Linked DNA regions of Homo sapiens: region 2 is linked to region 1. Evidence: fine-mapped expression QTL. A gene starts in region 1. The other region holds a variant in brackets. All regions are shown on one strand. Distances are between the middles of the regions. Region 1 holds the start of FOSL2 (FOS like 2, AP-1 transcription factor subunit). Region 2 has its middle 40 kb from the start of PLB1.

Region 1 (2,899 bases):
CAGCGCTTTATATAGAGCCCCAGGAAAGCTTCGCGTTCCCGGCTCTATTTTTCTCTGCTACCAACACCCCCACTTTGCAGATAAGGAAACTGAGGACAGAAGTTGTGTGACGGTGCACAGCGAGTTGTCAGCAATGGACTCTCAACACCTCTTAACATTGGGTCCTCATAAGGACCCTGTGGGGTACAGATGGCTGGCGCTACTTAAGAATTGGGTAAACTGAGGCTAACACAGACCCTGGACCAAAACCTAAGTTCCCTGACTTCCGCTACAGTACTTCTCCATTCACACACACCATCATCTCAGCGGAAGGATTGGAGCTCCAGAGCAGAGAAGGGCCTAAGGTCATGTCTCCAAACTCCTTCACTTTATAGGAGGAAACTGAGGCCCAGAGAGGTTAAGGAATTCGTCCAAGATCTCACAGCTCGTAAATAGCGTAGCCGGGCGTTCCTGCTCTAAGGTCTGTGCTCTGTACCCTGCGCCGCGCCCCTCCCAGCCCCGCCCAGCGAGGGAGGAGGACCCAAATGTCCGGCAACCCGCGCCCTGAACTTCGCTCCAAAACAGCTGAAGACGACAACGTTGGGGCACACCCTCTCGCTGGCTTTTTTTTTTTTTTTTTAATTCGTAACAGTCTGGAGTTTGCTTATAAACGCCCGATTACTCTTATTAGATGCGTCCTAATTGCCCGGCGTATAGGGCGGCCGGAATGTCTTGACTGGTTAATTTCATCTTCAAGGCTACTCCTAACGAATTAACTGTAGGACCGAAAACATGAAAAACAAAAAACAAAAAGGGAACCGGTAGGCAGACCGCCACGGAGGGAAAAATAGGCAGGCCAGCCCCGCCCGGCGCCGTGCCCCGCCAACACCCGGCCGCAGGGCGGCGCGGGCACCCTGCGCGCCCGGGGCGCCCGCTGCACTCGGCGGCGCCGCGGAGGGCGCCTACGACCGCGCGCAGCCGCGCCCTCCCTGCGAGCGGCTCTGCGCGCCCGGCTCCCGGCCTCCCGGTGGCGCCGCACCGAACCGCCCGTCTCGCCGTCAGGGCTGTGATTATTTTCTAAAATCCGGAGGCGAGACCCGCGCGGCCGCTCTCGGGGCCCCGCCCCGAGCCCCTTCCCAGGGCGGGGGAGAGGCCGCAGCGCACTCGGGAGCGGGCGAGGGAATCCCTCTCCCTCCACGTCACCCGAAAGCGAGGAAACCCGCACTCGCGTCCTCTAACGCAAATGACCATCTTTGGCAACGTGCGCCAATGGAACAGACCAAGGGCGCTGGGCCCGGGGGGTGAGCGGGGGACTGGGGAGGGCCGGGGCTGCCTCGGCGCCTCCGAACCGTGCGTGGCGCCCGCTCCCGCCCGTGCCACCGCCTGGCTTCCTCGCGCGGGGTGCGCGGTTGGCGTCAGCGCGGCCGGGAGCCGGGGCTGGGAGGGGAGAGCTGCGCCCGCCTCCTCCCCTCCCGCGCCTCTTCCTCCTCCGCGGCCTCCTCCCCCCGCCTCCTCGTGCGCTCCTCCCTGCAAGGTGGAGTCTGGGGTTGACGTGAGTGAATCCACATGGTACAGGGCTGGAGAATAAAGAGTGTGAGTTGAACTCGTGCCATTGTAGTGACTCATCTCGGGCAGAGCGCTAGGGCTCCGAGCGAACCAGCGAGCGAGCGAACGAGCGGCGCTCGGCGGGGACAGAAAGAGGGAGAGAGAGAGAGAGAGAGAGGGAGAGGCGCGGCCGGGCGAGGCGGGCCCGTCCGGGAGCGGGCTCCGGGGAAGGGGTGCGGGTCTGGGCGCCGGAGCGGGGAGCGGGGCCGCGTCCCTCTCAGCGCCAGCTCTACTTGAGCCCCACGAGCCGCTGTCCCCCTGGCGCGCTCGGGGCCGCGGGACGGGCGCACGCCGCCTTCTCCTAGTCAAGTATCCGAGCCGCCCCGAAACTCGGGCGGCGAGTCGGCCACGGGAAGTTTATTCTCCGGCTCCTTTTCTAAAAGGAAGAAACAGAAGTTTCTCCCAGCGGACAGCTTTTCTTTCCGCCTTTTTGGCCCTGTCTGAAATCGGGGGTCCCCAGGGCTGGCAGGCCAGGCTCGCTGGGCTCCTAATCTTTTTTTTAATTTCCAATTTTTGATTGGGCCGTGGGTCCCCGCTGAGCTCCGGCTGCGCGCGGGGGCGGGAGGGCGCGCGCAGGGGAGGGACCGAGAGACGCGCCGACTTTTTAGAGGGAGGGATCGGGTGGACAACTGGTCCCGCGGCGCTCGCAGAGCCGGAAAGAAGTGCTGTAAGGGACGCTCGGGGGACGCTGTTCCTGAGGTGTCGCCGCCTCCCTGTCCTCGCCCTCCGCGGTGGGGGAGAAACCCAGGAGCGAAGCCCAGAGCCCGCGGCGCGGCCGGCGGACGAACGAGCGCGCAGCAGCCGGTGCGCGGCCGCGGCGAGGGCGGGGGAAGAAAAACACCCTGTTTCCTCTCCGGCCCCCACCGCGGATCATGTACCAGGATTATCCCGGGAACTTTGACACCTCGTCCCGGGGCAGCAGCGGCTCTCCTGCGCACGCCGAGTCCTACTCCAGCGGCGGCGGCGGCCAGCAGGTAGGTGCGGGCCCCGGTGCACCTGGCGGCGCGGGCGGACCCCTGCCCTCTTCTCGCCGCCACTGCCTCTTTTGCTTTCTTTTCTTTTTCTTGGCGAGAAAATACCTACGGGCCACCGTTGTAAGTTCTGGATTTTCGTCCTCCCCTTCCCCCCCACCCCCTTTTAAACTAGGGGATTGGAGAGTGGGCTTGAAGAGACAACATGCCCTTTTCCTCTCACGTTATATTTTACCCAGATAGACTCCTGGAATTGTAGGCCCCCTACCAGGAGCCTGTTACCTCCTTCCAAGAACTACTCCCCCTCCCCAGTGTCTGCCCCCCCCCCCCCACCCCTGCCCCGC
Region 2 (2,899 bases), 63 kb after region 1:
GCTCACCCGCCTCTCCTGCTTCTCACCCAGCCCCTGCTGCTGAGAGCTCTGGCAGCCTCCGTGTGCACAGCAGGCCTGGGCTCAGTCACAGGTAGCTCTTCTGTCTGCTCCACGGTGGCTCTCCTCAGGGCCTTGGCTCTCATGTGAGGCTTCCAGCTGCTGCTCACACTCAGAGCTTTGCATGACCAGCAACACACAGGCAGATAAGAGCATTGGGTCTAGGGCGAGAAAATCCTGGGTTCAAGATCAGGCTCTGCCATTTACCAGCTATGTGGCCTCAGGCAGGTTGAACTCTTTGAGCCGCAGTTATCTCATCTGTAAATTGGGGATAATAACACTTAATGGTACTTATCTCATGGGGTTGTCATGAGGATCAAATGAGATGATGTGTGTGTAAACACCTTACAGAGGGCTCCACTAATGGAAGGCATTATTATTGCTGTTTCCATACCACACGACACTCACCCAAGAATGGAAGTTCATGTTCTGACTGTCAATGACGTGTCCAGCATTCCTCCTGTGCTCATTTCATAACTATTCGTTGAGCCTCCTTGGTGCCAGGCACTGTTCTAGACTCTTGGGCCATAAAAATCAATAAAACACAAGATCCCTGCCTCCTTACGGCTGACCTTCTAGGGGAGAGACTTTCACATACCCCAATCTACTTAGCACACATTCCAACCTCTCTCTGGCATCTGCAAACTCAAGTCTGCAAGGTGAAGCAACATCCTAAGCTGCTAGGAACTCTCTCCATAAGTACTCATCCAGATGGCCTGGTGATACGGACAGGAGACAGGGAAATACTGGGTAGAAGAGGGTGGCTCCTGGCAAAGGCCCCACCCTCAAGCCTGAAGACCCACGGCCCTAAATGAGGACAGGCATTCCTGTTTTTGAGCGGAAAAAGTTGCCTTTTGGCCTGCCACACCCCCTATCCTGCACCCATATAAACCCTGAACCCCAGGCTTCAGAAACAGACGAGCAAGCCAGCAGACCAGCAGACGGACAGTGGAACGATGCAGTAGAGAAAGAGAGAGGAGGAGGAACATCTGAACATGGAGAGGAGTTTGACTGGGGACGGTCAGAGAGGAGTCCGGCTGCTGGGCTCCTGACTCCAGGGGAAGATCACCTTCCTACTCCATACCCCCCTTCTGGCTCCTCATCCGTCCCACTGAAAGCTACCTCTACCATTCAATAAAACCTCGCATTCATCCTTCAAGCCCATGTGTGACCCAGTTTTTCCGGGATGCTGGATAAGAGCTTGTGATACAGAGAGCTGTCACACTGGCCCTCTGCCCTTGCGAAAAGGCAGAGGGTCCAT[T/C]GAGCTGGTTAACACATGCTGTCTGCGGACAGCAAAGCTGAAAGAGCTTTGTAACACTGGGGTTGCAGGCACCCACCTTTAGACACTACAGTAGGGCCAGAGCCCAAATGGCTCACCCTGGCCTCTGCACCTTCCCATCTGCATGCTCCACCTCCTGAGAGGGATTTGAGCAGCAGGGGTGACCGAAAAGGCAAGCGGCACATCCTGAGGGGGATCGGGGACCTCTCCTGTTTCACTGCAGAAGTCCTTTCGTGGCAAAACAAGGTCATGTTGAGACAACACTCAGAGCATTGTCGTGAAAAGGGAGCACAATCATTAAGAGTAGTTGCCCATTTTACAGATGAGGAAATTGGGGCCCAGAAAAGTTTAACTGCCTTGCCCTAGGTTATGCTGCTGCTCAGTAACAAAATAACTTAGTCAACAAATATTTGCTGAGCCCCTATTTTGTGCCAGCCACTGCTTTGGGCACTGGGGCACAGTCAGTGCCTTAGTGGAGCTTGCATTCTCTAAAGGGGTGACTTAAAATAAATATGTAAACAGGTGAGCTCATTTCAGACATGATGAGTGCTAGGCGGAAAATCATACAAGATAATGGGAGGGACAGTGACTTAGGAATGGGGTAGTTGGGGAAGGCCTCCGGGGAGGTGACACTGAAGTCAAGGAACCAAGCAGAGGACACTTCCGGTGGAAGTTATCCTAAATGGTGACCCAGATAAGAGACTCAAAGGATTCCCTACAGCTCACTTAAAAGGCAAAGGAGAAAATGTGGCTGTGAGTCCTCCTAGGGAGAGCAGGGGTTTCTGAGCTGTGGCCTGAGGAGCCAGGTGGCCCTCCTTGTAAAACAGAGCTCAGGGCATCTGGGGATCCTTTTGTTTTGTTTTCTAATAGACTTTATTTTTTAGGTTCATAGCAAATTTGAAAACAAAGTATAGAGAGTCCCCATATACCCCTGCCCCTACATGTGTAGTACATTCATTAAATCAAGAACCCACATGGATGCATCATCACCCAAAGTCTATATTTACATTGGGGTTCACTCTTGGTGTTGATGTCCTATGAGTTCTAACCGAAGTGTGATGACTTTATCCACTGTCACAGCATCTTAGAGTAGTTTCACGGCCCTAAAAATCCTCTGTGCTCCGCCTGTTCATCCCTCCCTCCCCACAACCCCTGGCACCCACTGGTCTTTTTGCTGTCTCCGTAGTCTTGCCTTTCCCAGAGTGTCATATAGTTGGAATCATACAGTATGCACCCTGTTCATACTGGCTTCTTCCACTTAATAATATACATTTAAGTTTTCTCCATGTCTTTTCATGGCTTGGCAGCACATTTCTTTTTAGCGTTGAATGAAATTTGCATTTTCTGGATGTAGGGGCTTGATATGGTTTGGCTCTGTGTCCCCACCCAAATCTCATCTTGAATGATACGCCTGTAACTCCCACGTGTTGTGGGAGGGACCCGGTGGGAGATCATTGAATCATGGGGGCGCTTTCTCTCATACTTTCCTTATGGTAGTAAGTCTCATGAGATCTGATTTTTTTTAAATAGGGAGTTTCTGCTTTCGCTTCTGCGTCATTTTTT

What was found.
Region 2: its variant is fine-mapped to the expression of FOSL2 in whole blood (INTERVAL, PIP above 0.99).

The regions. Positions count from the first base shown.
Region 1 is chr2:28,391,265-28,394,163 of GRCh38, forward strand. It overlaps FOSL2 (FOS like 2, AP-1 transcription factor subunit), which reads left to right and starts at 1,594. Exons shown (of 4, transcript NM_005253.4): 1 at 1,594-2,558. The coding sequence starts at 2,457. The region is part of intron 1 of FOSL2-AS1 (FOSL2 antisense RNA 1); the gene reads right to left. RefSeq lists silencers at 811-1,930, 2,417-2,593 and enhancers at 1,624-2,555, 2,711-2,899.
Region 2 is chr2:28,454,225-28,457,123 of GRCh38, forward strand. No RefSeq gene overlaps it. Among named protein-coding and RNA genes, the nearest start is that of PLB1, 40 kb to the right of the region's middle. The variant T/C (reference allele first, on the strand shown) is at 1,319.